Regions from separate parts of the Homo sapiens genome. Here region 2 is linked to region 1. The links come from fine-mapping of genetic effects on gene expression. Tissue or cell type: prefrontal cortex. Region 1 holds a variant in brackets; the other region holds the start of a gene. All regions are shown on one strand. Distances are between the middles of the regions.

Region 1 (4,000 bases):
TGACAGTCTGTTGTTTCATGGGCTTACTTTCCAACCAGGTGGTAAATCACTGATTCTGTCTATATCATCCATCTATAACTATCTGTCTACCTAATCTCCTCCAGAATTGATCACCATGCCTCAAATCATGTTAGTTTATATTTATTAAATCCATTCTTGAGAAATGCACAATATAGTTAGAAGGGTGGGTAGTGTCTTTGAAATTAATGAGGGGATGACTATGGTTTGTTGGCAAAAACAAGGAGAGAAAGAAGGGTGGCTGGATCCGATTTATGTGATATGAAGGAAATGTGACGAGTAGAGAGGCTGCTGATGGCTTTTGAAGATATTTTCTCTACTGGTGGAGAAGTGCCTGTAATTTTGGTCCATCTACACTGATCCAGTGGGTTCTCTTGTCCTAAACACATTCCTTTAGAGGACACCTGGCCTGTGCTATTGTGAAGGATGTGGCCAAGCATCACTGGGGCTGAAATCTCACCTGGAGGCTGAGCCACAGCATTGCTACCACTGTTTCTGTGCTCTCAAAAGCTAGATAAACCATATACCACTGTGCTATCTTTTTTTTTTTTTTTTTTTGGTTAGGATCTTTGTGTAAATGGTGCACAAATACTACATTTTAAAAGCTCATTAGTGGAGGAGGCAGTCAATGAGCTTGTAAATATGTTGCTGGATGTGGAAGTTTTATCTGAAGAAGAAAGTGAAAAAATATCCAATGAGAATAGTGTTAATTACAAAAATGAAAGTTCAGGTAAGAGATGGGGTAATGAAAGGGTCTTGTTTTTCTATGACATTTACTAAAAACTAAAACTGCATTTTCTACATACCAATTAATTTCATACTTCTATAAACATCCTCTCGATTTTCTAATGATATGTATAAATCTGAAATTATGGCCCTGAGCATATTTTAGTGACTCTATGTTGTTAATTCCTACTATTTTTGGTTAAACTTTGCAAACATGCACTTTGCATTGGCCCTGGTTAGCTTTCTTTGCATTTATGTGTGGGTGGGTGTTTTATTTTACCTTATCAATAGAGTTGGATGGATTATTGACTGGAATTCCCCTTGGAGAGCCTCTAGACTGAGCGCACCTTTTGCAGGACAGAGGAGAACAGAGAGATGTGGATGTGAAGAAGGGAAATTATCCCCCCAAAGTTTTAGGGTTATTGGTGGGAGGTAGCACCAGAACCCAGGTCCTTGGGGGCCACTGTAGCTTTTCCAGCCATAGCTCCTGCCTCTCTTGTTGGCTGTTTTCTTGTATTGAGAAGGAGATGCTTCCATCAGTCCCTCTGGTTCCTGATTTCCTCCTACTTTTTGATGTCCTCACTTCCTAAGAAGTGTGATGTTTAAGTGATACTAAACTTGCATGTAATTTATCCTTTAATTGCAACAGATGATTCTATCTATCTGTCTATCTATCTGTCTATCTATCCATCCATCCATCTAACTTATCTCTATCTCTATCTCTTTCATCTTGTAACAGCAAAAAGAGAAGAAGGAAATTTTGACACCTTGACATCATCTATTAATGCCAGGGCCAATGCCCTGCTTTTGACGACAGTCACGAGGAAAAAGAAAGAAACTGAGATGTTAGGGGAAGAAGCCCGCGAGTTACTCTCTCATTTCAACCATCAGAACATGGATGCTCTTCTGAAAGTTACAAGGAATACACTAGAGGCCATTCGCAAACGTATTCATTCCTCTCACACAATTAACTTCCGGGGTAATAATCTTGTGTGGTTTGCTTAGTGGATGATCAGGCATAGTTGCTGGGGTATGTGTGTGTGTGTGTGTGTGCACGTGTGCACGTGCATGTACATTCCTGTTAAATTTAAATAATTAAAAATATTCATCTTTTTTTAAATTTTTATTTTTTGAGATGGAGTCTCGCCCTGTCGACCAGGTTGGAGGGTAGCGGCACGATCTCAGCTCACTGCAACCTTCATCTCCTGGGTTCAAGTGATTCTCCAGCTTAGCCTCCCAAGTAGCTGGGACTATAGGCGCACGCCGCCACGCCTGGCTAATTTTTTGTATTTTAGTAGAGACAGGGTTTCACTATGTTGGGCACGCTGGTGGCGAACTCCTGAGCTCAGGTGATCCGCCCGCCCC[G/A]GCCTCCCAAAGTGTTGGGATTACAGGCGTGAGCCACCGCACTTGGCCATATCCACCGTTTATTTAGTGCCTTCTCGTAATTTTAAACATTATGAACTTTGATCATCCCAACAATTCTATTAAGTAGATACTATTACTACTCTCATGTTAAATCAGAGAACTAGAGCACAGCACAGGGAGGTTAAATAGTTTGCTTAAGTTTTTGTTAATAACATGAAAATTGGTAGTACGTTTAATCTTTTTGTAATAAGATGAAAAAATATAAAATTATTTTAATTGGTGAAAGAAAAAAATACATACTTTAAAGGAAGTTATATGGAAACGATTCTTTCATTGTTAAATCATTAGGTTTGTTAGCCAGTCTTACAAAGTGGAAACATCTTACTAGTGTCACACTCTTCAAAGGATATATATGTATTTTACTATTTTTATGCTAATTTAGTACTTTCCAGGTGGTTTCCTCATTTTCAATAGCATCATCTTTTCCTCGGCACAGTTCAGAAATAGGTGTTGTATTTCTCAGGTGGGCCACAAAAATCTGTCAAATCTAGAGGCATCCTGAAATTAAATTTTAAGTTAAAAATGGTAAAAAGAAAACAAATAATAGTAATTAATGAAAACTGAAATAATAGGATAATAAAATTTTTAAATATATTTTGAATATTGACATTTAAAGGAAAGCATCTTCAATATTTAATTAAAAGTGGGTAAATAAAAGTGGAAACTCTGAAAGATTTTTTTTTTGTTTGGTGCCATGGCTTATTATGTTTTACTTCATTCAGGATGGAGAATAGTTCTTTTCTTTGGCACAGCGTTATTATTAGAACTTAATAAATGTTGGCTGATAGGCTAAATATTCAATCACAATTATTTCCCAGCTTTTCTATTACAGATATTTGCAACTACGTAAAGTTATGCATGATACACAGACACATATACATACATGTCTGTATCTACATACCTATACCTATGTTCAACCTTAAAAGCTCCTTCAGTATGAATGGCGAATTACACTTTATTTCTTTTCCATTTTTTTAACTGCTCCACATTTGGATTTTACACACCATGGTAGGAAAGGCCTATGATTTATCTGAAATTCCAAAGTGGTTATTTGTTCTAACTTTGGCTTATGCCGATAGTCTTGTTCTTCATTCCTGGCTTACTTAGCTACATTTAGCTAATTTGTTGGCATCTTGTTATTTGGAAGAATCATCTTTAATATTTTACAGAAGTGTTTATAATTTAGCCTGATCCCACACAGTGGGTTTCATTGTGGAGAGTATTCCAAGAAGCTGTAAACAGCAAAAAATGCCTTGGGTTCCCCTGAACTGCTTTGTTATATTGAGCAATACTAGATCCTCCATTAGTTTTAATTGACTCATTCATTCAACAAATATTTATTAGATTTTATACCTATTATGTATTGTTTTAATTTTTATGGTTACAAAGGAAGCAAATCTTATTTTGTATTAAAAATGTGAATTCTTCCTTGTTTTGGGTTAACTCAGACAGTAACAGTGCCTCTAACATGAAGCAGAACAGTTTGCCCATTTTCCGGGCAAGCGTCACTCTGGCCATTCCCAACATCGTCATGGCCCCTGCCCTGGAAGATGTACAGCAGACCCTGAACAAAGCCGTGGAGTGCATCATCAGTGTCCCTAAGGGGGTCAGACAGTGGAGCAGTGAACTGTTGTCCAAGGTGGGTATGGGGTGCAGAAATGGTTTCATATGGAAACCACTTCTTTTACAGATAGGACAGAACTGAAAAATATCCTTTTACATTGTAGAAAAAGATACAAGAAAGAAAAATGGCTGCTTTGCAGAGTAATGAAGACAGTGATTCTGATGTTGAAATGGGAGAAAATGAACTTCAAGGTAAATGTTCTTTTAG
Region 2 (4,000 bases), 24 kb after region 1:
ATATTTATATATATATGAAGCAAATAGTGAAGATGGGGTATTGCACGTAGACTATTAAGGAAGGACGTGTGACTTTCATGCAATAACATGAGAGCTTGCCATTTTGATAGGACATCTGTATCAGTGCGGTGAAAGAGAGAGACATTGAGCAAAAGCTGAAGCAAGTGATTAATGAATGGGACAATAAAACATTCACCTTCGGCAGCTTTAAAACCCGTGGAGAGCTCCTCTTGAGAGGAGACAGTACCTCGGAAATCATCGCCAACATGGAGGACAGCTTGATGTTGCTGGGATCCCTACTGAGCAACAGGTGGGAAAACCATCTATCTTTTCCCTTAGATTTGAGAACCGTAATAGCAAACATTTAAAATTAATGAAAAATCCATTACAATAATAGCCTTCATATAGTTTACTCAATGTTGAAAATACTTGTTTTAATTACATTGATTAATTAATTTTTATATCCAAAACATATTTTTACTCAGGTACCCACTTATATATACATCATCAAGAGATTATATTTCAATTATTCTTGTTTTCATTTTGGCCTCAGGCACATGTTAGAGCATGTGTAACTCTGGTTTTATTTCATTATCCTCTATTTGTGGGGTATGTCTGAGACCATCCACTGGACAAAATAATGCAACGTATAATTAGCCACTCGGCTCTTGGGAACATTTCAGCTTGCTGCTGACAAGCCTGACTGCACAGCTCATAGCTCTACAGGCTGTAGAATCCAGGAGGAACATTATTTTGAATTTCAGAATAATCATTTTACTCGAAAAACCTTTTTTACCAATATCTGTGGACTAGAAACTCTTAGTTGTTTACATACTCTATTTTTTATATTTGTACAAATTTATGGGGTACATTTGAACTTGTTTTTTTTTTTTTTTTTTTTTTTTGAGATGGAATCTTGCTTTGTCACCCAGGCTGGAGTGCAATGGCGTGATCTCAGCTCACTGAAACCTCAGCCTCCCTGGCTCAAGTGATTCTGCCGCAGCTTCCTGAGTACTGGGATTACAGGCAACAGCCACCACGCCTGGCTAATTTTTGTATTTTTAGTAGAGACAGGGTTTCACCATGTTGGCCAGGCTGGTCTCAAACTCCTGGTCTCAGGTGATCTGCCCGCCTTGGCCTCCCAAAATGCTGGCATTACAGGCATGAGCCACTGTGCCTGTCCACATGTGAACTTTCATTACATGTATATAATGCATAGTGGCCACCCCTCACATTTTGGACATACAAACCACACAGTCATGAATTTACATTTCCTTGTTTCATTGCTTCCATTTGCTCTTTCTGAAATAATGTTTTTGTTCCCCAGAATCTTCTCAAATATATGGTAATTGTGCAGAAAGTGGATACCATTGAGATATGAATTTGTTGTTCTATTCTAGCTTTAAAATATCACCCAATTCTCCATATATATGTGTATCAATACTTTTAATGTTGGAAATACTGTGTACTTCATACTATTTCAAAAAAATTTCTCTTATTTCAGTTTACTTGTTACACTAAAGTAATATTGGGATATAAAGTTAGACCATTAGTAATCTTGAGTTTGGACTTCTCAGGATTTAGTGAGTTTTAATGAACTTGGTTACTATTCATACCAAACCAGAATAAAGGATAGACAGGCAATAATATACCCTAGGGAGATAGAAAAGACACTCATGTAAATTAAGTAAAAATTATCTGGTTGGGGTGGGGAAACTTTTCTTTTCAATGGCATCTAATCTACAGATAGAGTTATTGGGAGGAGTATTTTTTCAATATATATTTATTGAACCTTTACTATGTGTGTGATGTACTCTTCTAGGCGCTGTGGGTAGAACAACAAATAAGGGAAAGATCTCTGTTTCTATGGACCTATATTTCTAGTGAAGAGCATACAAATATTCAGAAAGATGCATGGAATATTAAAACAATTTGGTTAACAATTAAGAATATGGAAATTAAACTTTTATGCAATAATACGACTTCAAGTCCATATTATGTAGGGCTAGAGAGAACCATGAAGGGATAAGAAAGAGAAGAAGAGACACAAAGGTAGGCTGTATAATCATTTAGGATTAAGTTTGTCTGTAAATAACAGAAACACCACATACAAAATGGCTAATATAACACTGATGTTTATATTGCTCACGCATAAAAGAATTCCTAATGTAGGTGGTTCAGGTTGGAATGGGGGCTTTACCACATCATCAGGGACCCAAGCTTGGTCTGGCTCACTCATCTGTCTTTCCCAGGTGTGACCTTATTCCCCATACTACCCATTACATCCAATGCCACTACTCACATTTCATGTAGAAGAGTTGTTCTCAATCTTTGCAACGTACCAGATACACTGAAGGAACTTAAAAAAATCCCAATGCCAGGGCCACTTCCCAGACCCATTGAATCAGAGTCTCTGTACGTAGGACCCAGGCAGGCATCAGTAATTTTTAATGCTGGCGAGATGATTCCAGTGTTCAGCTATGAGATCATTCCAGTGTTCCGCTAAATTAAGCACTGTTGATGTGGAACTTAGTCTTCTGACTGCACATTACTGCAAAGGGAAGCTGGGAAATTCAGTAATTTAGCTGGGTAATTATGAGCCCACATGGAAAAGCAGAAGGAAAAAAGGACATTGGGAGGCCACCCACAGGCAGTCTGTCTCAAAGAGGAAAAGGGGAAGACAGATTAACTATGGAAGAGGCAGTAATCTTGCACACATGTACATCAAACATGAGTGGGTTGGACACAGGTGCGTGGGAAGTTAGAAAGAGACTCAGAAAAGGGGAGGCTAAGGAGAGAGTCCAGGTGTTATCATATTTGAAGATTGAATTAGTTGTCTGGTCCCCACTGATGGTTCTATAAAAGCTCCATATTATATGAAAAACCAGAGACTCCATGAAATAGGCACAGAAGCTCAGTAGGGCAAATATTATTCTCGTAGCCATAGCAGCACTGAGGGTAATTATATTACCCTGGAAGCTTGGTGGAATCAAGTCTAATGCCTGATCTACTCCTTAGATTATAAATCTCCCACCCTTCTCTATGCTCTGGATCAAAAGGGAAAAAGCTAGACTAACAATGAACAGTAAGTGGGGATGAATTAATCACTTGGTTGCATCACTTTAAAAGCCAGCAACATAATTAAGGTTGTAAAGAAAGCGGTTAAAAATTAAGATTTTTAAAAACCTTTTTAATTTGAAACAACAGCACAACAAAAACAAAACCAAACCCTAAACCTATTTCTTATTTTAGGTACAATATGCCATTCAAAGCCCAGATTCAAAAATGGGTGCAGTACCTTTCCAACTCAACAGACATCATCGAGAGCTGGATGACGGTGCAAAACCTGTGGATTTATTTAGAAGCTGTCTTTGTGGGAGGAGACATTGCCAAGCAGCTGCCCAAGGTTTTGTAATCTTCTTTATGATTTCATCAGATTTTTCAGAGAAAGCTCTCAGAGCGATTACCCCCTTAAATAATGCAATAATATTCCACTTCTATTGAACCCCCTTCCTTCAATCTTTTTGTTGTCACTGTTAATGCTGTTATTCTTCAAAGGGAGTGAGGAATTGTGGAAAGGAAAGGGGTGACAATCAGAGTAAGAATGCTGTAAAACTGTGGAGGTTTGATAGGAGATAGAGGGTTAAAAAAACAAAAAATAAGTGGTCGCATAATTGATATGCTTCTTTAGATAATTTCAAGGTAGAATTTGGAACAGTGTAGAATTATGGTGCAGTTATCTTGACAATGGTAGGCTAAGTTTTTCTACTACAGACATTTTAAAGTAATGCATACTATACAATGTACCCAATTATATCTGTACAGTAAAATTGAGGGGTGGAAATGTGCAGAAAAAATCTCCAAAACAAAAAGACCTTCTTTTCAAGATGTCAAGTATATATTTATCATCAAATCGTAATCATCTTACTGGGTATATATGGAGTATATTTTGAGATTTTTAAATGAACATTTTAACCAATTCTCAAGGATTCTTATTCAA

Which allele goes with the higher level. Alleles are on the strand shown, and positions count from the first base shown. SD is a standard deviation of normalised expression in the study named.
For the expression in prefrontal cortex of the gene that starts at base 2,419 in region 2, A is the high allele of the variant in region 1 and G is the other (moderate effect, 0.50 SD a copy in BrainSeq).

What was found. PIP is the estimated chance that this variant, and not a neighbour inherited with it, causes the effect.
Region 2: DNAH5-AS1 starts here. The variant in region 1 is the best candidate, but not a certain one, in a credible set for the expression of DNAH5-AS1 in prefrontal cortex (BrainSeq, PIP 0.81).

What each region holds. Positions count from the first base shown.
Region 1 is chr5:13,882,712-13,886,711 of GRCh38, reverse strand. DNAH5 (dynein axonemal heavy chain 5) reads left to right here. Exons shown (of 79, transcript NM_001369.3): 18 at 583-748; 19 at 1,484-1,723; 20 at 3,618-3,808; 21 at 3,897-3,984. The region is part of intron 1 of DNAH5-AS1 (DNAH5 antisense RNA 1); the gene reads right to left. Among named protein-coding and RNA genes, the nearest start is that of DNAH5-AS1, 24 kb to the right of the region's middle. The variant G/A (reference allele first, on the strand shown) is at 2,110.
Region 2 is chr5:13,858,858-13,862,857 of GRCh38, reverse strand. DNAH5-AS1 (DNAH5 antisense RNA 1) reads right to left here and starts at 2,419. Exons shown (of 3, transcript NR_199035.1): 1 at 2,303-2,419. DNAH5 (dynein axonemal heavy chain 5) reads left to right here. Exons shown (of 79, transcript NM_001369.3): 29 at 111-310; 30 at 3,253-3,406. RefSeq lists an enhancer at 2,792-3,991.